Regions from separate parts of the Homo sapiens genome. Here regions 2 and 3 are each linked to region 1. The links come from fine-mapping of genetic effects on gene expression. A gene starts in region 1. Each other region holds a variant in brackets. All regions are shown on one strand. Distances are from middle to middle. Region 1 holds the start of MEF2C (myocyte enhancer factor 2C). Region 2 overlaps MEF2C-AS1 (MEF2C antisense RNA 1). Region 3 overlaps MEF2C-AS1 (MEF2C antisense RNA 1).

The links.
Region 2: its variant is fine-mapped to the expression of MEF2C in whole blood (INTERVAL, PIP 0.99).
Region 3: its variant is fine-mapped to the expression of MEF2C in whole blood (TOPMed, PIP above 0.99).

The regions. Positions count from the first base shown.
Region 1 is chr5:88,876,574-88,887,446 of GRCh38, reverse strand. MEF2C (myocyte enhancer factor 2C) reads left to right here and starts at 4,263. Exons shown (of 11, transcript NM_002397.5): 1 at 4,263-4,492. It overlaps MEF2C-AS1 (MEF2C antisense RNA 1), which reads right to left and starts at 4,117. Exons shown (of 10, transcript NR_136219.1): 1 at 3,962-4,117. RefSeq lists an enhancer at 3,156-3,205.
Region 2 is chr5:89,319,989-89,330,861 of GRCh38, reverse strand. The region is part of intron 7 of MEF2C-AS1 (MEF2C antisense RNA 1); the gene reads right to left. Among named protein-coding and RNA genes, the nearest start is that of LINC02161, 260 kb to the left of the region's middle. The variant C/A (reference allele first, on the strand shown) is at 4,008.
Region 3 is chr5:89,298,236-89,309,108 of GRCh38, reverse strand. The region is part of intron 7 of MEF2C-AS1 (MEF2C antisense RNA 1); the gene reads right to left. Among named protein-coding and RNA genes, the nearest start is that of LINC02161, 280 kb to the left of the region's middle. The variant A/G (reference allele first, on the strand shown) is at 5,981.

The DNA.
Region 1 (10,873 bases):
CTGCCAAACTCCTTGGCCTTAGGTATTTACAGAATAGACGTGTATAACAATAATAAAGAGTTAAATGACCACCATACACTTTATATTATAAGCAATGACATATCATTTTGCTTAAAGATCATGTCATCTTTCAGGGCCTACTTTTGCAAGTACTGTATCTTATAAAATTAATCTATTTCATGGGAAGTCCTGTGTATCATCAATACTATAATTAGACAAAGATTAAAATATGTAATGCTATTGGAATTTGTGTTTCACTGCTTTTTAGATTTTTCTAAACCACCATGTTCACTTATCATGTTTGTGTTAAAAGTATTCTGGCTGAGGAACAAATACTATACAGTTGAATAATCTTAAGGGGTACATTAATCTATAGCCTTTCTTCATCTCAGGGTGGGTTGCTGTGGCAACCGCCCCAGTTCACTTTAAAATAATTTTTAAAGCTCACTTCAAGAGCTACACCCAGCGTGGGCCAGGCTTAAAAGCAGGCAGACCCAGTGCACAGGGCTTTAGTGGACCGCTGCTTTAATGTAGGGAAGTAGTGAAGAGAGGAGGTTGGAGTAAGATGGTATGCAGCTCTGAACAGAAATTGCAATATTAGCTTTCCCTGGAGTTAAAATCCCGAGGAGCATGCTCTCTGTAACTTCTATGACACTTTAATTAAATATATTGCTAAACATAATTCTTTTGAGGGAAAAACAAGTGACTCTATATTTACATTAACAATAAAGCATTTACAACTTAATGTAGGAGAAATATTTGGTGATTAGAAAAAAATAAAAGCTGGTACAGTAGTACATCAATCCCAGACATAATTTTCTTTTAAAGGAATTGTCACCTATTATTTAACTGGATAGACCCTACCTTCCAATTGGTTTAAAGGGTAGAAACATTTTCTGTTTTCCAATGATAGAACTGGAATAGGTTACAGAACTCATTTAACACATAAGCGAACTGAAGCCTAGAAAGGACAAATCCCTTAGTAAGGCACAAATTTTGAACTAGATAGAGAATCCAGGTCTCCTGACACCTAGTACAAGCTCCTCCCTACATGAGAAAATAGTCTGATCCTAACCAAGTATCATTAGATGGCAAGGATCAGGATGATTTTAAAGAAAAAACAAAAACAGAAACAGAAACCAAAAGTCCAGAAGTATTTAAAGAATACAAAGCACACTCTGGATTAACTACTTTGTGGATTACTCATGAATAATTTTAAATCTCAGGTGATTTTCTAATGTATATTTCTTCATATCTCTTCTGCTTCAACTGTAAAGGCTCATGGGAAGAAAACTAATGGTAATATTAACTTAGGTCACACATAATTAAGAAGCTAAATCTGCTGAGGGGAAAATCCTGTATTTTAAAAGGCCAACTGTGATACATTCCAGATCCAAATTATTTTCAAATTATCCAGTGTGGGGTTATACTTATTTTTGAATGCTTGCAGTATCATTAATAATTATGGGTTTGTTATAATGGGTATTATTAAATAATTATTTAAAATATGAAAAGGTAAAATAAAATAATTTCTTTTTGAAAGAACATCTAAAACTGAAGTGTACTGTGGTAAACAGAAATACCCTCTATAATTCATTAAAAACAGCAGGGCTGAAATTCATGTATTGGCTATGTGTTTGCTCATGTCAAATAGACTGTTGTAACTCACTGCATTAATTTTAGGTATTATGGCAATAAACTTAGATGGTCCTTCAAATGCTTTGCTTTTTCAGGACCTTCGTGAATCTTGAAGAAAATTAATTTTATTTTTACCACCATATATAGACATATCTTAGTATTCGAAATATCTTTGCCCTTTAAATTTTTGGATTTTCAGAGAAGTTGTACTTTGAATGGAAACCTGATACAGATGTTCTCTGCCATATTATTAAAATGAATTCATGGTAATGGCAAACTCAACATTTGAAAAACCGGCAAACAAAATACATTGTAAATACTAATCTGCAAGAAATACTACTATTTCAGATGGTTTTTGCTTTGTGACAGTTTGTGATGCATTCCTATAATAAAAGGGAGGGAATGGTCTTAGTTTTGCTGATAGTCACAATGATGAGCTGGAACTTGAAGATTGTTCAGATCTAGTTGTACTTGCCTATAAAATAAACCTTCCCCTTTCAAGTGAAGCCTTGGGACAGTTGCCTAAATGTTGAGGCCACTCTTCTGAGAGAAGCTACTCACATCAAATACCTCCTACATTGAAGCAGGAGGCTTTTTGAACCATACTGTCCTCATATATTAAAATAGTCATCTGGAGGCATATTGCTGAACTTAACAGGAAATACAACTAGTCATTGGGTTAAACGTAGTGCTAAAAGGAATTTTCTAAAGTGAGGAAATCTTTAGTTAGCTAGATATTTCAATATACTATTGTCTAATCTCATATATTCCATGTTCTATTAATTTTCCCTTCTTGCTTTCACAATATTTTTTAAAAAATAGTTTGGTTTAAACATTTTATGTAATCTATAATTCTACTGGCATGCAATCTTGTCTTTTCATGATTCTATACTAGTTGATGTATTTTATCTTTGGCTTTATTGGGCATGGTATATATTAACAGTTGGTTAGGGCGGGAGGTGCCCAATCTCTAGTAGCCTAAATATTAAAGCCTTTTTTTTTTTTTTTTGTAAGGAAAAGTGTTTATCATGCTTTAACCTTAACATAAGTATCCTCCCTTATCAGTCTCTATTTCTGCTTCCTGTGCAGCTGAAACTCTTCAGGATAAGTGAAGTCATCAGCTATCGGCTAGGGTAGCCTAATGCATTTGGGAAGTTGGTTTGGTTTACATGTTAATGACCTGGATGAAGTCCAGTAAGGTGTGGAAAAGATAGAGTGGGGGGAGGGGGGGAACTCCGAGGAAGCTGCTTCCTCGGTAAATATTTCCAAACTGATTAGAAAGTTCATGGCCCCGCGATGAAGTCGAGATCTCAAATACTGGTAATTATTTTATTATTTCGTACATTACTAACATTAGAGAAACCTTTCGGCTCGCTTTCTAGCGCTCCAACCTCTCAGGGTGAAAACCGCGACTTCTGGGCGTGCAGGAAAAGCACGCTGGAATCGAGTGCTGCAGACATCCTGGACCGTGGTTTTTACGCGTGAGTAACGGAGGAGCGCACCGACCGGTGGAAGAGAGAAGTGGCTAACGCGTGTCCAAAAGGGGGAAAAGTCACAAGAGCAACTATTAGGGTCGCGCTCCTATTGGTCAGAGGAAAGATCCCGACTTTAGAAGGACTTTCCTGCTGGCTGGCTCGCAGCGTCCCCGGAGAGCAAGCGAGCGCGCCGCAGCGGGAGACTAGGTTCTCTCCGAGCGTCCTCCGCAGAGGCGCCGCGAGAGGAGCAGGGAGCCGCAGCTCGCCGTGTTGTCTTCATTTCGTGCAATAAAGAATTGTCATTAGGTTTGCGTATGGCATGTGCTATTACCCCACCGTAAAACTAAAATTAGCAAAATGTCAGGAATGGAAAGATTGATTCACCAAGATGCAATTATCATTTAAAAGTGCTTGATTGAGGTACTGATGTTCAGTGATTTATTCTGCATACCATATACATAATTAAAGTAGTGTAGTGGAGTAATTTATCAATCTAGTTGAGACTGGAGGGGTGAGGAGGGAGCTGCTGTATGTTTGTTTTATTAAAATGCTCCGAGGTCTAGTCCCGCCCCCCTTTTGCAAGAGTGAAACTGATGATTTCTCCAGCTCGCGAGGAAAGAGTCAACGGTTTGGGATTGTGGGGGAGAGAGAGACGGAGAGAAAAAGGCAGCGCGAAGCAAAGGCAAGGACAAAATTAAATAAAGGGGGAAAAAAGGAGGCAAAAGACATTTCATCGGACGTGCTGCTTAGAACCCCAACCATTCGTGCTCCGTCTTCCCTACCACCCCCGCCTCCCCTCCCAGTATCCTTCAATCCCCCCCGCCCCCACCACCCCCAGTCTTTTTTACGCGATGTTTCAAACGCTGTGAGCTGTTCTCCTTTTCCCATTCGTCTTCTGTCACTTCCTTCCTGGACGCAGTTTTCTGGACGAGTCTGGTTACTTTTAATCCGACCGGCCGCTGAGAGCCACTTTCTCCTCCTCCTCCTCCTCCTCCTTCTCTTCCTCCTCCTTCTTCCTCCTCCTCCTCCTCTTCCGAGCGGCCTCGGCGCGCGCGAATGCGCGGCCCCGCGCCCCCCCCCTCGCGCGCGCTCCCCTCGCGCGCGCGCACACACGCACACATCGTCTCCAGCTCTCTGCTCGCTCTGCTCGCAGTCACAGACACTTGAGCACACGCGTACACCCAGACATCTTCGGGCTGCTATTGGATTGACTTTGAAGGTTCTGTGTGGGTCGCCGTGGCTGCATGTTTGAATCAGGTGGAGAAGCACTTCAACGCTGGACGAAGTAAAGATTATTGTTGTTATTTTTTTTTTCTCTCTCTCTCTCTCTTAAGAAAGGAAAATATCCCAAGGACTAATCTGATCGGGTCTTCCTTCATGTAAGTACCCCTGATATTTCTCGAGGAAATAGAAAACCCGGGTATTGTCTCTAAAATCTGCATCAATATATTCCACGGCACTGTGTCTATCTATCCCTGTGCCTTTTTTGAAGGCTGAAGTTGAGGCTCGTTGTGCATTCTTTTTCGTTAGATTCCATGATTTCCTTGTTTGTTGCTAAAAGTAACTTTTTAGATAGTCGTATCCGTTTGCCATCAGCTATTGAAATCACTCCTGACTCGTTCCTGTCACACCAGTGTATTTAAAGTTTCATGAAGTTAGTTCACGTCATTAGCATGTTTGATATGGTGGAGCGTGTGGAGCCTGGTGGATTTTAATATTTCACAGCATGTTCTGTGACCTTGAAGTAGACGCCTTAAGATTTAGCAGTTAGTTCACTGTGGAAAGATGCTCCCATGAGTCCCCCCAAAGACACTGATTTGCCCTGGGTTATGCTTCTGAGCCACTAATTCTTGGGATTAGTTTGACCTAAAGCATGGCTGTCTGTCAGAGTATACCTTTGTGCATTTCCTTCCCTCACCAAAGTGCCGGCTTGACAGAGGGCTTCTTAATTGGTGTGGACAAAAAGTAATATCCCTGCCATAGTAGTCTACACATTTCACAATTCACGTTCGATTTCAGCATATGGATTGCTGTTCAGGTCAAGTCAAATACATAGCTGTTTAAAAGCAAGCAAGGTTAAGTCACTTAAATTGCCTTCTCTTTGGACTTGGAATGAAAGTTACCAAACTCGATGATAAAGTTTGTCACAAAGGAAGTATATATAGATGTGGCACATTGTTTATTTTATTATTAAATATTGTGGAAGTATTTAAATTTAATGCTAATGTTACCTTCCTTCCCTGAACATGGCTATTGCTTTTTAAAGGAAATTTTATATCTGAATCACTTCTGACTATTCTAAGTCCAGTAGTTATCATTCTTTGGGGAGAGCCTTTTTTTGTCACATTTTAGGAATGCGTGTCTTTTGTATAAAATACTTTATATGTAAATGCTGACAGTAGACTAAGTAGAATTGGGCTCTCTGCCAGTTCCTTAACCGGTCCTCAGTGGAGAATTGCTTTGACACAAAGTGCGTTTTACTATTGTGAATCTGAAACTAACTCTAATAGTAACTGTCTTATGAAATGCTTGGGGACTGCATATAATTTCTAAGTGCTATAAAGGAAACTCCAGCCACCTCATTATACCAGTCCAAAAAAAAAAAAAGCGACTAGCCTACTTTCACTGGCACCTTGCAATGGAATTGTGGTTGCAGAGTAAAGATGTTTATGTGGAGTATAATAACTCCAATCCCTAGAGACTTGGTAGGACATGGAAATGTGACCACCTGTGAACCCCGTTTAACCTCGTATTGCATACCAATTTTAGCTTTAAATAGATCAACAATCTCTAATTTGAAACTAAAACATCTTATTTAATTTTAAAAAATGTCAGTTTTGGCTAGTCTTTAAAAACATTCAGCATGTACCAATATGGTATAAGCAGTATTTTTGTTTCTCCATCAGTTTCAACTAAAGATAATGCAGTTAAAAAGCCATATTATTGTCTTCCAGTGTATGCATGAAATTAAGTTAAAAGAAGTAGTTCTAAAGCAAGACTCAGAACTTGATAGGTAAAATGAGATGTCCCTATCTAACATCCTATTTCAAGAGGAAAGAAATATTTTAAATCAAATATCTCATTCTATTTGTAGAAAAGTACATTTAGCTATGTATTCTGCTACTAACTCAATTCTAAAAGTTTTCATCAAAACAGTCTTTAAACATAACATTTGCTTAAAATTTGGTTCTCCCGTCAAAGAGACAGTAGGTGGCTGTTACCTTTACTTCAAATTTTACTAAATTTTATAAAAACCTACTATTTTTATTAATATAATTCACACAGCATTCGAATGTTTGACTTTTTTTCAGACTTCTTAGGAAAGGCAGCATTTTACTTCATTCATTAATTGCACCATTTACGTCCTGATTGCTGTGCATGTGGAATATATTGAAAGATAATATTAAAGTGTAAGTTTTATTAAATGTTAATTTGTTTTTTATTTCAATAACAAATGAGCAATTTATAATAAAAACAGTTTTCCACCTTTTCTGAGCTATTCATATTTTAAAAGTGTGCAATCACAGATATTAACTTTTCAAGAGAGAAGCACATTAATACTAGATAACTCCATGAAACTTAGATAACAAGAGGCACTTTGCCTCTTTTCTTCTTTGTAAACATGTTCATTTTGAAAAATTTGGGGGAAAAGATACCTGAAATTTTTTCCTTGGCCCTAACTTAACGGAATCAATAAATTCCATAACACTGCAAACGTATCTTTCTAATAAATACTTTATTTAAACTTCTTTTATAAAGAACAGCACTGAATAACTCCTTAGCATATCTTAACATTATCTTTTAAAACTTTCTTCTGTTTATTGTAGTATATTTTGTGGTTTTATTTCTCAACTCTAAAGTGTGGTATAATTTGAGTCTATGAAATCTCAGAAAGTGACAAAAATGGGGAAATAGCTGTGCAGCAATACTTGTGCTACATAACAACAAAGACATAGTTATTAAACAGAATTCTGGCTTTGGGGACATGATTCGAAGCAACATAGAAGAATTTAATATGCAATTAATGGTCACAAGATGAACTGTTAAGAGATTATTAATAAAGTTACACTTTTTTTTCAAAAGCACATCCTCTGAGAAAATACCACACAAATTAATATCTAAAACTTATCAAAATACACGTATTCATTCTATACTAATGTGGTGATTGCCTAGACACGATGAAATGATTTAATCACTGTTGTTCCATCAGTATGCTGCATGTGGAAAGACAGGTAATTAAGATCCCCGTCCTTAGCACTGTACCTTAATCTTATAGGCGCGTGGACTGTCTTGCACTCAGTAAAGCTTGACTGTTCACCGAGATCTGTCACCTTTAGGAAATCAAACCAGATTACAGAGGTGATTCACAAAACCAGGAACAACAGAGTCTATGCACGTTACAAAAGGCAGATTACATAGTTCACATGTTATTTTGATAGGTCAAAGATAAAAGCTGATTGTTGAGGAATGGCAAGACACTCAATTTCAAATGATTGCTTAGATAAGCATACTTTGACCCTGTTGCTTCATCATTATGATCCATTCAAACAATGGAAAATTCAGTTTTCAAATGACAGGCTTTCAGTAGTGAAGTAAGAGAAAACATGTCCTTTTTTATGTATGTCTTCATTGTGTAAATTTTAAGTTCCATCATTTCTTTATGAACAAACATTAAATTGTCTGCTTACATGAAGCAGGTATTGTAAGGCTTAAATGCATTAGACATTTTCAGAGGCGTTATAAAGAGCACAAAACAGAATTTGCCAGAAATAAAACATACACTCATGTTATTGAGTAATTCAGCAGAAAATGCATAATAGTCAATATCCATTATGTTATTCTGTTACCAAATATATTCTACATAAAAATGTGTAATTACATAGTTATGAATCCATATATGTGAAACATATCTTCATAAAAGTTCATTGGTCAAATTTTATATATATATATAATATATATATTTCATGAATGTTATATAAAGATCATTCTTTACAACAGAATATGATGTTTTGAGAGTTTATTTCAGAGAATAAAGTTTTGGTTTACATAATAACATTTTGAAAATCTTAACTTCTTACACACCCAACTTTACAGTAATTTTTTGCTTCTTCTAAAATTGAAGTCCTTTTTTACCCAACTGATGCCTCCTAGTGTTTCACACAATAAAACACTAATGAGTCACCCATAAATGTAAACATTGCATTTTCATTGCCTACATCATCTGTGATACATAAAATTAATATTTATGTGTTTAATTTTCTGTGCACTATTATAATAAGATAGAAAATTTTAGTGAATGAGATGTTTCATCTGAGTGGATTTGTGGCACGCACTTGCAGGTTTTCTTTGACCATCACAATATCTTACTAAGTTTTAACAAGTTTATTACCTTCAGTTGCAGTTATATATTCACTCTTTATATTCACTCTTATTTCAAGTGAGAAACATAGGTAAATAACAAAGCTTTCATTTTGTAGGCCTGGGAATTATACAGTTGGGTTCATTCTGAAATGCCTGATAAATTGCACAAGGACTATCCATTTCATTTACACACTAAAATATCTTAAAAGAGATATAATTTTTTTTCCTGCTGTGTCTTTACACTTGAAAATTTCTTTGTAAAAGTGGAATAAAGAAAGACTATTTAGAAAAGATAAAATCAAAGATAAATGCAAAATTTTCTATAAATATGGAGTATATTTATTAGAAAATAACAACAAAAGAAAAACTTTCCTTGGAAGGAAACATATTATTCTACATAAAGGGAAGTCGTGTTAGAACACAATATCCAATGACCAGCAGCTTGCCTTAATGAGGTAGAAGTTAGTGGGTGCCAACTTTGGTGTGAGTTTTCTGCCATTAGGATGGTAAGCGTAGACCTGTGATATTTTTGCATGTTTGTGATTTCAAACAGCTCTCTGATTCTACTTCCTAAGTTTCTAAATGTTTTTTATCCAATATACTTATGAAAGAAAGGGGTCATTCCTGTAATGGGTCTTAAATTGAAAGGAGGCCATCAAAAACTTGTAACATTCATGGGCCTCTTCCTGAGGTGTCATACAACATACCTGTACACAAAAACATTCATGAGTTTCTTCTACTAACACAAACATTCTATAGCATCCAAGTGTAGACACTAGATTGAACTTCATTCTGTATATGTGTCATTTAGTTCTCCTGACTCAAAATACACAGTGTATTAACAATATTTGACTATCACTTAAGATTTTCTAATTTAGTCAATAATACAGTGCTATTACAATTGTTGGACACATTTCAAAGAATGTAAGGGGGTGTGTTCCTTTCGTTCAAGGAAGCAAACATGTAGAAAGGGGTGGACCTTTCCCACAAGAGCCACATTTCTTCCCTTGGAGAATTGAAGCAAATATGCAGTACGTAAGTGAATAGCAGCATGAGAAAGAAAATAATTTGCAATGATCTCCTATAGTTAGTGAGCAAAGAAAATTGTCAGTTTTTTTTAAAGTAGCTCTTATTGACAACCTATCTTAAACTGAATACTGAAAAAAAGTCTATGAAAGTTTTATAATTTCAGTATGTTTTAACATTCATGCGTGAAATAACTGTAAAGTACACTGTAATAATTTTGGTCTTGCTCAAATCAAGAATTTTTTAGTAACCATGTTATTTTACAGACAATATTGAGGCATAACAAAATAAAGGGTGCTGGAAGCATTCATTCCTTACCCCTCTCTTTTAAGAATACGAAGATGGCATTGATGTTCTTTTGTTATTTTTGTCTGTGAAAGAAAAATAATTAAAGAATGTTCTATGACAAAGAATACCATTGTAAAAATAAGATTATAGAAAAGGTTATTTAATATACTATTATCTCACATCTCCTTGATACTATTTTAATGTTTACTGCAAAAAATCATATTCCTATTAAATATGGAAATTAGGTGATACATGTTATACAAATTTATGGTTTAGTTTTAGGTGATATGAGTAACATTTATTTGTCATCGCCATAATTCATTTGCTGTACATTGTCATTTTATTGTACAAGTTAAATCTTGGTATATATTTTTAAAATACAGCCAATGTAAACAAAGTTCAAAGTACATGAAGAGAATCTTTTGAGGGCATTGAAAAGGAAATTGACGACATTACAAGCAATAAAAACAGTAAACATATTACAGGCAGATTTCTTCAGGAATCATTACTCTTAAATAATGCAGACATTATAAAGACTTTATTAATTCTTAATGCTGTAAATTTGAAATGAATGGAGCAATGTTGTTCCTCCTGCAAGTGGTTGGGATTCATGTAGAATGACAGTGCAAGTCCTCAAGCAGTGATTTAAATTAAGTACCCAAAACTTGTTTTTAGAGGCTGGAGGAACTAACTGATCTTTGAATCAGTCCCTTTTGAGAACCTGCTTTTTCCAAATAGCATCATGAGCGTGGTGGTCTGGTTTTCCTCTTCTATCTTGTTGTCATAGATAAGATGCACATGAAGAATTCATATAAATTGCTCTCAGATACTATGGATTCCTAGCATATTGGATTAAAAAAGAAGTGGATATGGTCCTTCGATAGAATGTGAAGTGTTTTTTTAAAAATCAGCCAAGAACTATGCCTGTCTTTTTTTCACACCTGTGATTCTTTCAGCAAGTTAGAAGGATAGCAAGAGAATGTGCATCCTTCCCCAAACCCCGAAGACAGGCAGCTTTGGCTTAAATATGCTTATTTATTTTCAAAATTAGAAAATAAACACATTAATGTAAATATGTTGAGACA
Region 2 (10,873 bases), 440 kb before region 1:
CTGGGATGTAGGGAGGTAAGGTAAGGGGAAGAATGCCAATCAGGACACCAAAACCACTACATTTACAAACCTTATTGCAGTTTTGAGGTGCTGAGAAGGTTTTCTGGGTACATTTCCTTAATCAAATAAATAGAGTGAAATTTAAAATAAAGGTTGATCTATAAGTGTGTAAAGAGTCAAGGAATATATCATACTTGCACTCCTTGAAAAAACATACCAAGGACCAGCTAAGATATTTGCCATCTATAATCAATCAGTTTGATGAATGTCATTTATATAATTCTGGTAAGAAGATATTTTGATAGTTATTCTGCAGTTTCATCTGCTGAGAATATTTGAGGTTCTCTAAATGGTTTTAGTCCTATAAAAATGAGCAAGGTGGATGAGTAAGAGGGGAATAGAGTAGGTTGATCACTTATGTAAGATTATGAGGATCCAAATATAAATTTCTAGTGGTTTCCCATTATGGAAATAACAATTTCATTGAAATGTGAGTCAATGACTTAACCTAGAATATTATATATAACTTACTTGACTGGTGTGAGTCTTTATACTTGCAGGATCTGACTATTTGCTGAGTCAGGGGAGAAAACAGATTTTTTTTTGGTACTATTTTTAAGATTAGATAATCAGTGACAAACTCAAAGTATATAGTGGCTTTTTTTTGCTCAGTGGAATATTTGATATTAGTATTTGATTTTTAAATACAGTACATGCCTCTCTTTCGGAACAATGTAACAACAGGATCACTTGGGAATGGATTAAAAAAAAATAGCTCTCATCCCAGCTATCTCCCAAATCTTCAGCATATCAAGGATTTCACTTTCCTTAATATGGGCTTTCAAATATGGATGGCACGACATATAGACAAAAGAGTAAGTAGAGAAACTCCTAGAAGGAAATTGGAAAAGATAAATGCTGGAATTTTTCTTACTGTTATTACCCATGTGGGAGCCATAATCCTTCTGGGAGGTGACAAAAACTCACATTTGAATGTTTTTCATTTGTAGCCCACTGATTATTTACAGACTTTTTGGGGGGGAGAAGGTTTTAAAATAAAAATGTGGTCTAAAAAAGTATTCATGGAATCAGTTCTACCATTCTGCTTCATAGGGAAACACCTAAATTGTACTATTTCATATATCAGCAAATGAAACAATTATGTATCTTATTTGGGGTTGAAGAGTTAGTTTAATGCAGACAAGCACAAGTATTTCTCAAAATGTGCATAGTTATCATTGTTGATCCTAGGAATAATGCCACATTATTAAAATTTTAGCCTTTAAAAATTACCTATACATCGCCCCCCCCCCCACTTTTTTTTTTTTTAACAAAAAAAGAGGAGGCCTGAGAGCCAGAACCTGTGGCAAGAATTAGTACCTAGGTAGAATCAAATAATATTATTCTGCTTTGACAGTATTTACTTCCACTTATTTTAGTGATTCTAGTTTTTCTCTTAGAGTAGTAGCATGTGTTTTCTTATAAACAAATGTATTCAAAGTAAAAAAAGCAATTCAATTTAAAGACAATATTGGACAATTGTAGAAGTTTTTTTGGTAAAATGAAAGTCACAAGTTTGATAGAAGAATGTCTGAAATCTGGTGCAAATTGTGGATGGTGTTAAGAAAGTGATTGAAACATTAATTGAAGTAAGGATAATAGAGAATAAATTCCTTCTATATCAGCAAACTTGATATGGCTTGGATCTGTGTCTCCGCCCAAATCTCATGTCAAATTGTAATCCCCAACGTTGGAAGTGTGGCCTGGTGGGAGGTGATTGGATCATGGAGGTGGTTTCTCACGAATGGTTTAGCACCATCCCTATAGTACTGTTCTCCTGATAAAGTTCTCATGAGATCTGGTTGTTTAAAAGTGTATAGCACCGGCCGGGCACGGTGGCTCACGCCTGTAATCCCAGCACCTTGGAAGGCCGAGGCGAGCGGATCACGAGGTCAGGAGATCGAGACCATCCTGGCTAACACGGTGAAACCCGTCTCTACTAAAAATACAAAAAAAAATTAGCTGGGCGTGGTGGCGGGCTCCTGTAGTCCCAGCTACTGGGGAGGCTGAGGCAGGAGAATGGCGTGAACTCGGGAGGCGGAGCTTGCAGTGAGCCGAGATGGCACCACTGCACTCCAGCCTGGGCGACAGAGCACGACTCCGTCTCAAAAAAAAAAAAAAAAAAAAAAAAAAAAAAAGTGTGTAGCGCCTCCCGGCTCTCTCTCTTCCTCCTGCTTCGTCCACGTAAGACGTGCCTGCTGCTTCTCCTACACCTTCCGCCATGATTGTAGTTTACTGAGTCCTCCCTGAAGCTGAAGCTGCCAAGTTTCCTATACAGCCTGCAGAACTATCAATCAATTAAACCTCTTTTCTTTATAAATTACCCAGTCTCAGGTATTTCTTTATAGCAATGTGAGAATGAACTAATACAAAACTAAAGTGAAGAGTTGTGACTTATTCTTCAAACGATACCTTGAACACTCAATATTCTATGTATTTTTGTGCAGGTGTGTGTGTGTGTGTGTGTGTGTGTGTGTGTGCATTGGCTCCTAGTACTGGGCGGTTGCCTCATTTCTCCAGTTTCTTTGTGACCGACGGTGTCCTCTGCCTTATAGTAACTAAGCAGTAGAAAGTGTAAGCTAGTATATTTTACTGGGGAGATGAGCATAAACACCTTCAGAGCACATACGCAAAACCCATGAGCAGAGTCAGAGTGAGTGTCGATAAAGTGCATGAAGGAACGATTTGCAATGGAAGGAAGAACCCCCTCTTTTCCTATCTTAGAAAGGACTTTGGTACAGAGTGTAAGCTTTCATTGCTTGCTAGTTCCATTTAAAAGGCCCATATGTTTTTGGAATCTGAAACTCAAGAGTAAGGTCAAACGACATGCCATAATTAGGATGCTCATCTTTAGGAATGGAGAAGGATTTGTGTAAGTTTCGAAAAGCATTATGAATGATGAAACAACCACAAGCCTGTTAAGTTGGTTGTTACTGTAACCTTTGGACCAAGCAATTCATAACAGCCCTAGTTCAGAACCATAGCAAAATTCAGAATTATTCAAGCTCTCTACATAACAGGAACTCAGCTTGCTCCAATGATAAACAGACACATATGAAGGAAAATTCCACTGACCCTGTATTCACCTCCGCCTCAGAGGCCTAATTGCTTAAGAAGTAGTGTCAAAACAAAACATATACCTTCAGTCTCTGCAGTTTGGAAGAGCAAGGAGGTGAATGTTTTGCTTTTAAGTAAACCAGAGTATGGTTAAGGTTAAACTGTTGCAGAATGATGAGCCAAATATTGTAATGATTTACAAAGATGAATTAATATTCTTCTATATGCAGAAAACTTAAACATAAGTTGGGGGGGCAACAAATATCATTGTCTTTGTTTATCCTTAACAGTGGTTAAAAGAATCACTTCAATGGTAGTGAGATTGTGATATTGATATAAACAGAGAGAATGATTAGATAGATAAATATAGATAGTGATATAGATAGTGATATATATTGACTAGATAGAAGATAGATAGATAGACAGATGGTGGAAATGTAGAAAAGCAAACTCTTATACTTTTTTAAGGAGATTTAACAAGATATATCAAAACTTAAATTACAGATGTTTTATAACCCAATTTTCTCACTTGCAGAAATTTACTTTGTAGTACTTAATCAAGTATAGAACAATGATGTTCATTAGAGTATTGTTTATAATAACAAAAAATAAATTGGAACAACTGGATATCTATTAATATCAAGACTGGAAAAACAAGCTATGGTATAGCCATGTTCTTGAATAGTATTTAATTCTAAAAACAAACAAAAAACATTAAATATATACACAAGCACATGGGAAAAGTCCATAATATATTCCATATTGCTAACCAAGTTACAACTATGTTTAATAAATAAGCAAATAAAATATGCATTTACTCATATACATACCTATATGTCTATGTATTTATTACTATATAATGTTTATATTTTATAAATATCATCTGAAAT[C/A]ACGTGAAGTGTTATTTTCCAAACAATTAGCATCATTGAGGGGCCACTCTCCAGTGACTTCCTGGGAACTGCAGTCTACAGGAATGCAATAGAATTATTTGTAGCTCCTGGGAGATACTCCTGTGAACTCCTGAACAGAACTGGATAAGACTTTGACAGAGGTTAGAAATTCTACATTAGCAAAGGAGGGGGGAAAATATCCATGATTGGGGGTTGCTCCAATGTAACTATATACATTGTACAAACCCAAAGAAATGTGAGTTACAATTTCATTTTTAAAATTTTTCATTTGGTTTTTTGATACCAGAGACAGATGAAAGAAGTATATGAACAGCCCTGTACAAAAGTGAAATTTGAAGGGATACATTTACCCACAGGACACTCAAATGTTAAGACTCATGCTGATAACTGGCATTTGCATCAAGCATGATGATTTTCAAAATATGTTCACATAATAGCATCTTGCTCACAGTCAAATGTCTTGACATTAAATAATACATCCACTTCGCTAGTGTTATACCATGTTAATGCATCAATTATGAATGAAAAATTATATACAAAGGAAGAGATAAATATATATTTAATAATTTTGTCTTTGTAGTATATTAAAACAAGTTAACCAAAACAGTCTACTGCATTATGGGTTAAGATCAGAAAGGAATGCTTTCATCATATGTTAAGATTTTAAAGAGAACTAAATGAAGCAGTGTGAGGTTTCTGACAAATATGACTCTGAAAAATGCAAAACATGGTGACACAAAAGCCCTCTGAGAAAAAGCACATTTTTATCTTTCAAATGTCCATAGGTCTGAATCAATACTATCTTTTCAAGAATGAAAACAAGCGTCTGTAAGTAGGAGCTAAAAAGTAAGTACACATGGACGTAAAGATGGAAATAATAGATACTGGGGACTCCAAAAGCGGGGAGGGATGGAGGCGAGTGAGGGTTGAAAAATTAACTATGAGGTACAATGTTCACTATTTGGGTAGTGGGTACACTAATAACCCAGTCCCCACAGTATGCAATATACCCATGTAACAAATATGCACATGTACTCCCTCGATCTAAAAATTAAATTAGGCCAGGCATGATGGCTCATGCCTGTAATCCCAGCACTTTGGGAGGTCGAGACGGGCGGGTCACCTGAGGTCAGGAGTTTGAGACCAGCCTGGCCAACAAGTTGAAACCTCGTCTCTACTAAAAATACAAAAAAATAGCTGGGCGTGGTGGCGAGCACCTGTAGTCCCAGCTACTCAGGAGGCTGTGGCAGGAGAATCACTTGAACCTAGGAGGCGGAGGTTACAGTGAGCCAAGATCACACCACTGCATTCCAGTCTGGGCAACAGAGCTTGACTCTGTCTCAAATAATAATAATAATAATAATAATAATATTTTTTTAATAAAAAGGAATAAAAGCAAGTGTCATTCCAAATATGAGCCAGGAATTTTTCTGGATTGATGGGGTTAACTGTACCTTATAGAGTATGACCTTTATGCTGAGAAAATGGTAAATGAAGATCCAATAGTGTTTTTGAATTAATTTTTCATGTTTGAGTCAGATATCTGAAAACAGAAGACCTGATAAAGGAGGAAGTGGAAGGAAAGAGGAAGAGGAAAATAGGTGGGAGGTTGTTTTCAAGAATATCAAAGAACCATTTCAATGCCTATTGCAAATGTTTATTTCAAATTGAAAGTGACATAGAGAGGAAGTTTTTAAAGAATTCAGGGGAAAGAAGTGATTCAACCCATGAGTTTCCTTTGTCTACCAAATAGAATGTTTTTCTTTTTTTTGCATACAATGTTATTTTAGGAATTCTATTTCCTTTTTTAAAAACAGGAATGAAAGCAATACAATTTAGAAACTACTGACTTCTTAGTCCATAGATATTCTCTTTAGGGGAAAGAATGCTCTGTAACCAATATCCATTAAATATTTGTTACTTAAGGAAAACAGCAGTAATAACAACAAAAAAAGGAAAAACAATTGTCAATTTTAGTAGAATGCTTTCAGCAAAATGATCCTTTTCACCAAAACAGTTGATGATTTAAGTATATTCTATAACTAAACGAAGTATTTGTTCTAACCAATAATCAGAATTGAAGAAAGAAAATAAAATTAATAGAAATTTTACTCAAGCAGTTGACACAATAGTTTTATTTAGATGACCTGGTAATCTTGGTTCACCGTAATAAGAACGTGTTTTACTCTAGACAGAATTAGAGAGTGAACAGTAAAAAAAATCCTCAGAGGCAGGTGTGGTTCAAAGTGGCTGAGTCTTACAGTAATTTTCTGGAGGGTGTATATTTTGCAGAATAGTAGTAAAACAGTGTATTAAATATTATTCCTAATAGCCCTTTGGTGCTTAGAAATAGTTTCTCTAAATAGAAAATTTCTGATAATTTCCCTGTAAAAGAACTTGATCTAGCTCTCTATGATTCTATAATGTATTGCTAATGTGACTTTATTTTCAAATATGAAAACAGAGTGAGGGATATCCTTACAGCCACTTGCATTGAAAAACAAACAATATATGATCTCACTGATATGAAATCTAAAAAAGTCAATCTCATAGAAACAGATAGTTGAAAGGTGGTTACCAGAGGCTTGTTGGGAGAGGGAAGGATGGAAAAAAGAGATGTTGATCAAAGAGCACAAAGTCTCAGTTAGGCTGAAGATATAAATTTTAGTGGTCTATTGCACCTCAGGGTATCACAGTTAATAATAATGTATTATATATTCCAAAATTGCTAACAGAATAGATTTTTAACATTCTCATCACAAAAAAATGGTAAGTTGCTAAAATAATGTATATGTTAATTAGCTTGATGGAATCTTTCTATAATGTATACATAGATTATGACATTACATTGTACCCCACAAATATATACAATTATAATTTGTCCATTAAAAATAAATTACTTTTTAAAAATTGATTTTTAATTTTTGATCATTGATATTTTATTGATTCACTGATGGTCTGCTACATAATCCAAAATGCAATTGCCATGCCTTCTAAGAATTTGTATTGAGGGAATCATTTTTGTTTCAATCTCATTCAACATCTTTCATTTAAATACAGAGTAATAACAGAATCTTTTTCTTTCTTTTTTGTTTGTTTGTTTCAGATAAAATAGGGAATTATTGAAGTTGGCAAATATGATGACTGGCTTGTAAAGTGAATACACAGTTTGTCTAGAGTGCCTGGGACCTGAAACTCTCTAGTATACCTTTTCAATACCACTAATTAATGAAGAAAATGTTTCACAGATTTGTCTACATCTAAGAAAAATGCTCACAAGGCTTATAAATATCACCATACATTTCTATCATTACTTTATCAACTAATTCTCTTAAGCAAGCTCTCAAAGAGTAGCTATTGGCTTTTATAAAAGGGCTAGGTGTAAGGAAGGTGGAGATAAAAGACATAGTCTATGGTCTCAAGGAACACACAGACCAGACTGATCTGTAGCATATAATACAACATAGTGAGATGCAATATAGTGCAACAGGTAGTCTGACAGAGACATGACTGAGATATAATCAGTGCCCAGGACAGGAGCCCTTAACCCTGATGTTAGAAGTAGAAAATTCTACTTTTATTTTATTTTTCTGAGACAGTCTTTCTCTGTCACTCAGGCTGGAGTGCAGTGGCACAACTTGGCTCACTGCAACCTCCTCCTCCCAGGTTCAAGCGATTCCCCTGCCTCAACCTCCCAAGTATCTGGGATTACAGGCACCCACCACCATGCTGAGCTATTTTTTGTATTTTTAGTAGAGATGCGGTTTCCCCATGTTGGCCAGGCTGGTCTTGAACTCTTGACTTCACGTGATCCATCAGCCTTGGCCTCCCGAGTGCTGGGATTACAGGCATGAGCCACCACGCCAGGCCAGAAGTAGAAAATCATCTAGAGAAGGTTGTATTGCTTGTTTTTCTTTCAGTGAAATCTGAGCTCAATCCTGAAGATGAAATTGAAGAAAGCCAAGTAGACAAAGTGGAGATGATGTTCTTTAAGGCCTAGAAGTATGAAACTATAGGATATATCCAGGGAATTAGAAATAATTTTATTTTTAGAGAGAACATATGTAGAAACTACAACAGGTGAAACTATATTGATAGCAAAAGCCAGATTATGAAGGGCCATGTATGCTGAGCTAAGGACACTATTCTATCCTTAAAATCATGGAGAGCTATCAAAGGATTCTAGGGGGAAAACATTCACAGACGTGTACTTTGGGTAATGCACTATGACAGGCGTGGGCAGTATAGTACAAAAGCGTGTGATGAACAGCAAGAAAAGTAGTTAGGGGGCTTGTTGCAATAAACTAGATTTAACATAGACTAGCAACATTGGGAAAAGAGCAGGGGATAGATCAAGGTATTTATGGAGGCTAGGCAATAAGACTCAATAATGAACTAGAGATTGAGGGAAAACTGAGCAAAAAGAAATATTGTAACCAGATTTCTCTACTGGGAGACTGGAAGTGAGTGCTATTGCTTTGCATTCTTGAAATCATACTATTTTTGCCTTTAAAGCTACTCCTTCATCGATTTGTTCCTTTAATATCACATTCCTCTTGCCCTCATTAATGAACAACCGGAAGGATGACGTGCCATGAACTACTGTACTCCATTCCAGCTAAATATATACTATAACCAAGACTTCCCTTGTTCTTCCATTAAGGACCTTTAATTTACCTGTCATTCTTAAGTACAATAAAGAGTTTTTACTGTGAGAAAGCTCCATCAGTGACCAATTAGGTTTTATGGACCCATCACACTAATAAGATTTATTAAAGCATAATAATTGGTATAATAGAACATTAAAATATGAAAATATGTTGTGTCTTTTTGGGGAAATTCCAAAAAAACAAATATAGAGTTAACTGACTAAACTTTTTCTTCTTTATTCAGAAAACCTAAAATCTAGGACATGTTTCATATGAATTGGACATGTATCTCTGACATACTTTATAAATATTCACTATTTTACACACATATTAGTTCTCTAAGGCTATGTATCAAGAAAAATTATTCTGCTTGGTGCAAATACAAATAGGCAATATTTTCTCAATAGAACGTCACCTAATTTTTGTATTAAATTATTGTCTCCAACAGTTTCCTACTGTGTATGTTATACTGTGAAATTATATTTTTTATGTAGAATATTAGCTTAGTTTGTTAGGATATGCTTATTGTAATAGAGCTTGCTAATTTCCCACATTATCTATTCCCTGCTATTTCCTTTTGTACATAAACTCCCTGCATGGTCATCCAGCTATATTCCCTGTTACCTAGCATTGCTTTCAGCTATCTGAATCTTACGACTAAGTCATTTCAAATGGGATATAAATGGAAATAAAGATAACTTTCAGGTCTTGTCCTTAAGAATTATTAGACTCGGTCACCTCTTTTCCTCTTCCTTTTCCCATCGGTCAACAAAAGACAATAATACATCTCTGAAATACATGTAAAAGGAAAATGTTTTACAAAAGAACTGGTCAGAGTGAAGGGGCAGAGGAACAAGGGAACAGACAGATAAACCATAGCAAAATTAGTCCTGGACTAAAAAAATAATGATGATCCACATGAATGGTTCTTGTTCCCTTTCCCCTTCCCCTTCCCTCAAATTCTTACTAACTTTCAAGTTTAACAAGTAGGAATGAGTATATGGAAGATAGACTATGAAAACAATATTCTAACTGGAGCTTATGACTCCTTACTACACTGATAATGACTTATAGAGTTACCATAAGGTAACCACCCAACCTCATATGATTGATGAACCACTACGTATGTATTTATAAAAAAAACACTGAATCAATATGCCTTTCTCACATTGTAAGGAAACCTGCATACAGGGACACAGCTGGTAAGTGGCTTGGTCATTTGGAATTTCCATTCTGGAAAAAAGAAATTCTCACTCATTTGCACTTCTTGCCTCAAACCAACTAGATTTGGATTTTACACCTTAGACTATGACATCTTACTTCTAAAAACTAAAATGTAAATGTTTGGGTGGCATTACTCATCAGCTCATTTAAAAATGCATTTGAACTCATATTTATAGCATCATGCACATATAAATATCATGAAGCAAGAATAAACACTGTGCCTTAAAGTGTTTTATTCCAAGAGTCTGTGGAAACCTTTAGAAGTGGGCAATAGAAATATCACACTGCCTGATTTAATTTATGATCTACCCCTTAAGGAGTGGGCAGACCAGAAAAATTTGTGCATTTCTTGAGAAGTCAACTTCATCTGGGAACAGGACAAGGTGTGAAACTGAGAGTAAAGTCTCAAAGTAATGTGGTTAACAGTGGAATGTGAATTAGTGTAATTTAGGTTATTTTTCCCTCCGTTCACACAGCTTGCAGAGCTACCAAAAAACTCGTAATAGAATTCCCTCCAAAAATAAAGTTGATCTTCAATTCTTGGCATTTCAGAGTTGATTCCCATGATTCCAAGATGTTATATGGGTTGCAAATGCCAACAGTAGTTTTACAATAAGAGCCTAGGGACCCAGCAGAGGTTGAACTAAACTCCTAACAATTTAAACCTTGATATGTTCAGCATTTCTGCCAAACTTGAATAGAAGTATATGCCTTGAGAGATTAATGTTGACTTTAACTGTAACGACAACAAAAAACTGTAGTTGAATACAATTAAGTAACACATGGACAGTGTACTATTTACAAAGTAAAATGAGTTAAGACATCTAGATCATTTATCACAAGTTTTACTTAGATTTTTTTAATCTCATAAAGAATATGACTATTTTCTTAAAGAAAGAAGCAATGGATTTTTTTTAAATAAACTTACTTAAAGACATACCTATCAATTTGCAAATAAATATGCTAAAAGGC
Region 3 (10,873 bases), 420 kb before region 1:
CTTTCAAGCCCCCACAGCATATTCACAAAAGTAGATTTGCTGCTTGAAATCATGAAAGCAGATGCTTTTCTTTGACCAGGACCATTACTAAAAATACCCTCCAAATTTCTTTTGTTTTAGATGAAAGTGCTGCTTAGGTAAATGCGAGCTTTCAAATTTAAGGTGCTGCTATTGTTACTTAGATGTGTTCTTCTTACTTGAGAGTTATATTTCCTGTGGCTTGGGTGTTTTCTGATAATACTAGTACATTCTGAGGGCCCCTCGCACAAATTGGAGGGAACGTCTTCTAGCCAAGCCTGACAAGGCTCATGGCTTTCCAAATGAAGGTCAGAGAGAGTACAGCATTTTGTCATGCAACTCTCCCCAGAAGGTTCAATGGAGCCGACCACTGTGACCACTGCTGTCACTGCTCAGTGATTGACAGTTACATTGCTCAATTCTGTACTCTCATTCCATTTTGTTGTAGTGAAAAATGCAGGTGATTTTGTGTCCTACAGACTTGGACTCTAAGTCTGTTTTAGCCATTTTGGTTACAAACTCATTTAATATAATAATTTTTAATTTAGAAATCTAGGCTTCATCAATTCTACCAGAGATAGTGATTTAATTGTGCAAACTTGAATTGTTATTCATTGTTTTTATACTGTTAATTGACAAATAAAAGTTGTATGTTTGTGATGTAAAATATGATGTTTTTGAGATATATATATATATCTCAAATCAATCTATTTACCTTACATACTTTTTTTGTGTGTGTGGTGAGAACCATTAAAACCTTCTCTCTTAGCAATTTTTTAATATGCAATATGATATGTAAAATAAATCTCTTAAACTTATTTATCCTTTGTAACTGAAATTTTGTTTCCTTTGGCCAATATCTTCCCAATCTCCTATCCCCTACTCCCCAGCCTCTGGTAACCACTGTTTTACTCCCTATTTCTGTGAAATCTTATCATTTGCAACAACATGGATGAACTGGAGGACATTATGTTAAATGAAGTAAGCCAGGCACAAAAAGACAAATACTACATGATTCCATTTATACATGGAACACAAAACAGTTTAACTGAATTTTTGACAACTACTAAAATGGACATTCAGGCAGTTATATGAAGTCAGAAGTAGAACCACGTACTAATCTTCCTTCCCTGTTATCCACCTTAATTATTAATAACATTTTTCCAACATACCACTTTGGTAGTAGATTTGATGATTCCATTCATTTATTTAAAAATATAAATGGGTGCCTATTATGTTCCAAGCAATGTGGTAGGCTCTGAGGACTCACAAGTAATATACACACAGATTTATCCTCAAGTGGTTTATTGTCTAGGGACAGAGAAAGGAACATATACTTTTTTTGAGAATGTTTTTGTCCAGACTTTGAGAAGATATTTATTAGGCAGTCAATGAACCCTTAAAACAATATAGGTTAACACCTATAAAGCAGAGGATGCTATAAAGCAGAGGATGTGGAGAAATAGGAATGCTTTGACACTGTTGGTGGGAGTGCAAATTAGTTCAATCATTGTGGGAGACAGTGTGGCAATTCCTCAAGGATCTAGAACCAGAAATACCATTTGACCCAGCAATCCCATTACAGAGTATATACCCAAAGGATTATAAATCATTCTACTATAAAGACACATGCACACATAGGTTTATTGCAGCACTATTCACAATAGCAATGACTTGGAACCAACCTAAATGCCCATCAATGATACACTGGATAAAGAAAATGTGGCACACATACACCATGGAATACAATGCAGCCATGAAAAAGGATGAGTTCATGTCCTTTGCAGGGACATGGAGGAAGCTGGAAACCATCATTCTCAACAAACTAACAGAGGAACAGAAAACCAAACACCGCGTGTTCTCACTTATTAAGTGGGAGTTGAACAATGAGAACACATGGACATAGGGAGGGGAACATCACACACCAGGGCCTGTTGGAGGGTGGGTGGCTAGGGGAGGGATAGTATTAGGAGAAATACCTAATGTAGATGACGGGTTGATGGGTGCAGCAAGCCACAGTGGCATGTGTATACATATGTAACAAACCTACACATTCTGCAATGTATCCCAGAACTTAAAGTATTATATATATATTTCCTGATAACAGAATCTCACAAATCAATTTTCTAAATATTATTCATCCAAACATTTTTGACAGCCATTAGCCAAACTTCTAATGCTTCATTTATTTACTCCCAGAAATTCCCACAAATTTAATGCATCAGTTTCTAGACAGTTGTTTCTGGACTTTTTATGTTCTCATTGAAATATAGAGAGGAAAAATGGTACTAGAATGAAGAGTCAAATATTACAAGATATCATGTGTCTGGTCATAATCCCTTTTAATTTTCTAAGAATGCAAACCTGGGACTCCTTTTTTGGAAACAAAAATTCCTATTCAGAACTGAAATTGTTCTGACAAGACTCAAGCTAGCTCAGGCAAAGGAGTTACTTCCTCCATGAGATGAAAAATAAAATGAAGCTAGACCTATGCTCTAACAATATACCTTCTGGTACTTATTCCTCTGGCACTTTTGTCCACACCCAGAGACTGAAGTTATTGCACCCAAAGGGAGTATTTTTATCTTTAATTATTTATCTGTAATTGATTATCTTCTAATTAATGAGTTTAATTTAAAGTAATTATAAAATACTCTTCTTTTTCCTAATTTACAAAGAATTAGAGCTGAGGATATTAAATGGTTTCAGGGTACAGGCAGGAAGTGACTTTATTGTTCCCTAGCCATTGCCTTTTAATATTCTATGACAGATCTGCTTTCTGTGCTATTTGACAATAATTTGGGCATATCTTAGATTTCCAATCACTTTCAGTTGTTAGAACACACGATAAGTCAATGATGATGAGAGAGAGAGATAAAGAGAGCAAGAGAGAGAGGAGGCTGGATATTTAAAAATTCAGTCTCTATTAAACACAGGTGTCAATATCATATCTAATTCATGGCTCTTTTCCTTACTCCCATAAGAACTAGTTTTCCTGCAAAGATAATGAATTTTAAGCTTCAGAACTCTGAACTTGGAGGGCCTCTTACAAACCCTGTACCTAATGATGCATTTGTATGTTTTGTGTTCTGCTTTTGAAAGAGCATTCTCCAAATTTCATAAGGCCCTACAAAAACTGGATTCATCTGTCCCAGAAATTTAGGCCTGATCAGTGGACAGAAGGACATGTGGCAGGTGTGGAGGAACTAATCTACTCTCTGACTCCTCCTCCTCCCGCAATCATTTCTACCCCTCACTCCTTGAGAGTTAAAGCAGAAGTGGACTTAGAAGAAAGAAGCAATTGTTTCTTCACTTAACAACAACTGTTGGTAGTTAACTCTTGACTTTAGATACCCTCTCCAAGACAAACACCTAAATGCTGACTTTCTCTTGAAGTAGAATTTCTTGATATGGGCAGTGGTCTCCCTAGATGACCTCAGATGACTACTCACAAATCACTCCTCCCTTGGTTCCTCGTCCTTGATGTTCACACTATATTTATTTGTAGTTCACACTACAAATGTACTATTTGTACATTTAGAAAAATGTATAAATAGTATAGTTTAATCATTGGAAAAAATCATTTATTGAACATTTTCTCTGCATGAGGTTCTACGTGAGATATTTTTCTCACATTATTTCTCAATAGCAATTTAAAACATTACTTGTGGTTAATACACAAAAAAGTCCACACATGCACAAATCTTTAAACAAGTAGCAAATAGCACACTTAATGTATCAATTGTAGGTGCAAAGAGCAGAACGAGACAAGTATGTATCCATATTGTTTGGGGATTTCACAAAGTATAGCTTTAGAAAATTTGGACAGCACAGTGAATTTCCAATATTCCAGACAACTCATTCTGTGTGATAATGAAGATAAGAGATTCATTTGAAGTTCATCTATTGCCAAATAACTTATCCAGAAATTTTGTTGAGAACCTAGCCAGTAAATTAGACATGGAACCTTGAAGTATTGTTAACTCAGTTCAAATAATTGTATCAGGAGCACTGTCTATGTGACTCAACATTCTGTCTCTAGGTTTATACTCTTTGTGGCATGGCATATAGTAGGTACTCATTAAATATTTGTTGATGAAATGAATGAATAAACAAAGGATATCTTCCCCCAACCTATTATTCATCACACAATGCAAACCTGAGACTATATCAGTAAACAGAGAGAAACCTTATCTTAATCTGCCAAGTATGCTTTTTCTTTCTTGCCAAACTTGCCATACACAAGGGTTACATATACATTTCATCTCATTCTCAGCTTCCTCTGAGGTTTATGACTCCATGCAGCAGCCATGTTTCTCTCCACATGCACTAGTAGAATTCCTGGAAAACATGCCAGAGCAAAGAAAATGCTTTCATTCTGCTATCTGTTAAGGAATGAATTTTTTTCAAACATAAAGGAACCTCCCCATAATTATCTGTTTCTCTATTCTTCTGTCGTATGGTTTATCCCAACGCAGGTAAATCAACAATAATTTCATTAAAAGTCTAAAAATCTTAATAGTTGTTCCTTTCTTTGGAAATTAAATTCTTAGAGAATGTAATGAAGCAAGATAAACAAAAAATTTTCATTAGATTGAAATCTTTGATACTGCAATGTGTCCTGGATATATCTGTAGCCTGTTCTTTATTTTTTAACATATTATAAGAATCATAGTTCTTTTTAAAGGGAAACTTTTGAAAATATATCGCTAGTACCATATATGTAATATTTATGACATAATGCTTTACATTATAAAATGAATGTTATGTTGATATTATCATCAATATATAAACACAATTGGAAAAACAAGAAAACAAGGAAGATTCTCTTCATATTTGCAGCTTGCCATTTGTTGAATATTAAAGTTAAATTGCCAGCCCTTTATAGACTTCTCTTTTCTCTTCATAAGTTGACAAGTTTGCCCAAAACAAGACACATTATTACCACGGTGATTCTATGGCAGTGACTTTCCAGAGTTACTGCTCAGGACTTACTGCCTGAATTGATGATAGGAAGCCCTAAATTCTTCTCCTCCTCTCATGATCTTTGCAGCCTTCACCACCCCACGAAGGTGCAGATTACAATCCCAGATGCTGGCCATTTGTGTATATTCCATTGTATTTTAATTTTATAAGCATCATGGCTAGTAGAAATTTCCTATAGAATTATATTCGTAGCCAGAAATGAAAAATGACCACTTTTTTTGGCCTTTCACTTCATTGGAGCTGCACTTAAACTATTACCTATTTAATTCAAGTGTAAAAACAAAACCCACTAAATATTCAAGGTGAAAGTCTGGAGTATGTTTTAGGATGTCTTTTAACCTCAATTAAATTTCTAAATGTATTAATTCTCCATTTCACTTAGCATTTGTTAGGTGAGAAAGGGGGGCCCCAAAAGAGTTTTATAATGATTAGGGCAAGAAGCATATATTGACAAGGAGAGGCTGTGTGATGAAATTTGCCATCCTCAGTGAATACAATGACAGCACCGTGGGCTTAATACATTTTCTAAAATTTTAAACTATGGTGTAATGTTCTTTTTTTGAAAATATACAAGAGTGATGTAAATTGTGTTATTAGTAAACCACTTAGGATTGTGTTTTTAAGGCTTTTTATATTTGAACCCACAAGTAGTTTGCCAGGGAACGGTGCCCTTAATCACTCTCCGTAGCTAAGCAAACACATTAAGCTGACTTTCTAATTGGCATGAGCCGGATTTCCCTCACCATGATGAGTGTGATTTTGAAACCAAGAAACTTTAGGTTTGTCCTTTAAGAAAAGTGATTTACAGGAGAAGGTTGTGGGAGGGAAAAAGGAACTCTATTTTACCCCAAAAAGAGACAACATCCTTGCCCGAGGTAGCATTGTGACATTGCCAATGCAACAGGGTTGTGAAATACTGAGTTTTTGTTTTTGTGGTGATGTCTGAAAGTACTGGTTACTGCACCAATGTCTTGTT[A/G]TCATGCATCTCTAGTTCTGGATCTACTTCCTTATAATTGCTAATGAAAACAGAGTGATGAGCAGAGCAGTGGCTAGATCTTCAGTTCAATTCTTCTGTTGTTTGTATTAATAGATGACATCTTCTGAAAATTTCTTAATAATTATATTTGGCATTTAAGAAACAAAATACAATTGTCTTTTCCTATATTTTTAAGTCTATTTAAATTTTTGACTTACAAGCTAACTTATCTTTATTTCTCTAATCCTAGGCATCCACTAAAAACAGTCTCTATTAGTGTATATTTTGCAAGTAATCAAAATCACAGTAACTGAGGAAAATTAGGACAAGCCTAATAGTAGCCAAGCTCTAAATAGGCTTTAAAATAAAAATAGGATATGTGACTCAGAATACAGTACTAGTTCTTCATCTTACAGATGTTCTCAGCCATCGGAGTCAGCGTGGGCTATGACACTGGTAAGTGTGGGTGAAATGGGTAAAATTTTGGAGAGAATGATAGGCTTTTTTTTCAGACTATCTTCCAATTACCTCATATTACTTTATGTTTTACAGAATGTACAGAAAACTTTGCCTACTCATTTCTTATTTGCCTTAATAGCAAGCTTTAAGTGAGCCTTAAATTAGTAATAGAATTGCCTCCCTCTTCTAATGGCATTTTAGGTTTATACAAAACCCATCTCAGGAAACAAGTGTCTGGCTTTAGTTACTTATCAGCTGAGTGGCTACCTCATTAAACAAAATTCACTAATGATTTCTGTCATGACACGCCATTCATTGGGCCAACAAGATAGAAAAGACAGCATCTCTGACCACGGAAGGGACATGACAGAAATGCTGTCATGATATTTATATTCCACCTACTCGAAAGACCAATTGAGAAACTCCATATGGACTCCAGTTTGCCACTAGCCCACAGAATTGAAGTTTCTTAGCTGGCTTAAATTAAGAATTTTGGGTAAGTGTAAAACTTTGCATATATTTATTTTCATAAATCTAGGCAGTTTATTTTCATGTAGTTCTTTTCATCCTACCCAATTCTCTTTTAGTTGACACAATAGGCAAAGGAAATACATTCTTAGAAAGCTTGTAAGAAGAGAGGGCCAGGTATAATAGGAGAAAGTAAAAGAACATTGCTTGATAGCTCTAATCTAAGGTGTATTAGTTAGGAAAAGGTATGTACACCTAGTTTAGAACAATAAGAAAAAGAAGGTAGCCTCCATTGAGGTAGATTGGCTGATTTGAATTATCTGAAACCCCTTCCTCTCACTTCTCAACATTGGCCAAATGGCAGGTGGTACAAGTCCAGTTCCCCAGTAAGTTCCTGTAAACAAAACTACTTATTTATAGACAGCTTCTCAGTACTGTTTTTCAGGAGCTCAGTCAGAACGCAACTCAGAGCCACATCAACTGCAAAGAAAAATAAAGATATAAAATCCTGTTTTGAAAAATTTGCTTTACAACTCGAATGAGGTCCGCCATGTATTTGGGGGGATCTTCAGCATCATGGCTTGAGAACAGGTTTAAAGAAACATAGAAATAAGCCCCATGAACTCCTGCATTGGAGCAAAAAGAAAATACGGCTGACATCATGGAAAACTGCCAGCAGAGTTAAGCAAAATTTGAAATATCTACTTCTCCTTTCTATTCTTTCTTCTTTCTTCTTTCTATAGGGCATTCATTGGAATCAGCTTCGATGGAGGAATAACTGAACCACTGTGTATACAGACAGATCATAAAGCGGTGAACTGGGCTATTGAAATACTGAAGCTTTCCCAAAAAACTTTTGCCATATTTATTTATATAATGCAAAGTAAAATAGTAATATCTTTCTTTCAAAAAATACATGTCAATGTGCTTTAATTTATTCTCATAATTCTCCATATGAAATTTGCAGATATGTGAAGATTAACTCAGCATATATTTCAAAAGGTAAAATCTTCAGTAGTTTTAATCTAGGCTTATGTTACATATAGAAAATAGTAGGAAGAGGTATAGTTGCTTATAAGGATGAAAAATATGGCAGCTTTTAGTATAATCTCTTCTTACATTCTAAAGCACTACATGTATTCACCAACAGCTAAATGAAATCACTTTACACATTCACCAATTTTTATTCAGCAACTATTAAATTCAAGACATCTTGTCTGTTCTGAATATAACTGCAAAGGTACATAAATATAACCTTATTCTTCAGAAACAAAATTTCACCAAAGAGAAAAAGTGTAAGCTTATTTGCAGCAAAGATATATTTGCTACTTGCTGGCCCACATGAGGCACCTATTACATATTTACTGAATGAGTGTATAAACCATAAAATCAAGTAATTTAAATATAACATATGATATAAGCCACAAATGTGATTAATTCCTATGGGATTTAGAGCAAGGGGCATCACTGTTAGCTGAATGATCAGTGAAGAACTCACGGAGTTGAATGAGCTGATAAAGATTTTAGTCAGGCAATAGTTCAAAATAGGGCATTGTTTGGTAGGCAGAAATAAAAGAGGAAGTCTCAGGCAGAGAGAACAAAAAGAACAAGACCATATAAGGGTAGGGTATAAATACAGGATGGGAATAAGGGAGATCCAGGAGATCAATTCTATTTGAGTAGGTGGAGCAGTAATGGGAGAAAATGGATTGGAGCCAGATAACAAAGGCCTCGGCTATTACACTGAGGACCTCACACCTTATTCTGAAGACCAGTGTTTTCCATGTCTCCTAGAGTGCTCTTCTATTGCTAAATTGCTTGAGCACTCACCACCATAAGTGTATAGTTATATATCAGAATTTTGTAAAGTATACACATTATATTGTCCATCTATATCTATCCTTTATGTATATACACAGAGATGTACATACATGAACACATATTACAAGTAGACATTTTTAAGTGTCGACTAAGTGTGACACATCTACCATAATTTTTAACCACATATGATAAATGTATTTAGTTATTTTTGTACATATTTGCTTACTACATGTCATCTGTATTCCCTGCTGAATTGTCATCCTTATAAGAGAAGGAAACATTTTCTTGTTCTTTCTATATTGCAAGTGCCTAGTGCAGAATCTGGCACAGAGTAGGTGCTTATTAAATATTTGTTTGATGAAGAAATAAGTTGAACGGTTGACTGATCAAATTTGTTTTGAGGTGAGAATAAACTAATCTGGAGCCATCAAACATTCTTCATATTTCCCACTAGAGACTCTCTATATATCACGTATTATAAACATTAACCTTCAGTCTTGAAACTATCAATGACAGACTCCATATTAAAGAAAAGATGGGAGAAACAAGGCTGTCCCATCTTGAGTATAACACTAAAATGTTCCCTTTTCTTTAACAGCTTTATTAACATATTATTAATATACAATACATTACACACATTCAATGTGTACAATTTGATGATGGATATAGTCATACACCTGTGAAACCATCACCAGAAATCAAAGTAATAGATATGTCCATCACCTCCAAAAGTTTCCTTATGTCCTTTTATTTGTTATTTTTGGTGAGTGTATCTGTGTGTGTGTGTGTGTGTGTGTGTGTGTGTGTGTGTGTGTGTTTAGAATACTTAAGGAAACTGTCTTAATATAGTTCCCATTTCTACAAACTAAAGACATAGCATTTCTTTCCACAGATGTATTTAAAAAGGAATATAAAATTCCATTTATAATTTCTTCATATAAAACGAAGTATCTCAAAATGAGTTTCCTGGAGTCCAGGGGTTCCCAATAGGATCTTTAGAGGCTTTTCTAGGATAAGGGCTAGAAAAATGTGTTTGAGGAGAGTGACTACAGACTGCTATTTCAACTAGCCATCTCCAGTTTTCTTCTTTAATAGAGATACTTTTTATAGGATACTGTTTGGAAAAAAAAGAGCTCAGACAATTAACACAATGTTTTTTAAAACCAATAATATAAAGGTGTTTAAATCCTGTAGAAATACAATAGAGCTAATTAATAACTGTGTGAAATCTAAAATGAATTTTAGTCATTTTTGTCATATTGGTTTGTTTATATATTGGCACACCTACTCCTCAATCTATGGTATTGCTGCTGAAACTACAGTAAAAAGAAATAAAACTACTACTGTAATTAAAGATGCTTTTATCCCTAAAAGTTGTTGGTGATTATTCTTTTTTGTCTTCCCAAATCCATCTCCTCCCCTTTACTACTTATCAACTGGTCTCCCTTGTTAGTTGGCGTCTGGTCAAGGTCAACCAATGGGACGCATTGGAGGGAGATGAGACCATGGGAAGAGAAGAAAGCCATAGCTTATTTTCCAGTTCCTACCTGCATTCACACTGTATGTCTAGCAGTAGCTTCATCTGCCTCTTGGTTTCCTTTTCCACAGTTCTAGTAGTCACTGGACTCTAGTAACACTTTTTCCTTCTGTTCAGGTCCTAGCAGGTTAACAACTTTCCACTGTTGCTATTCTCTGGATCTTCACTATTTCTTTGTTTGCTCCTTTGCTCCTCTCACACCTCTGTAATTAATTTCTTGTCTCTTTATTTGAGCCATCTGGTGAATGATGTTTCCTACCATTTTCTTGGCTGATACAAAGTTAAAGCCTATTAAAACATCTAAAACTAAAATACAGAAAATTAAAATACTGGTCATTAAAATTTTTACCGTTGATTCAACCTTGTTTACCATGTCTCCAATATATCATACTGTACATTCTTTTTGCCAAAAACAATAACTACTCTATATTCTTAGAGACTATTAGCAAATTAAAACTAAAGAAAAAGTTCATATAATGTTATGTAAAAGAATGTCCAGAAAAATTATTACTTCATTGTAAATAAATATTCAGAACTCTCCATTCTGCACTTGCATGCAAGCTAGAAGGTGACAAGACCACATAACTCACCTCACAAAGCCAGAGAAG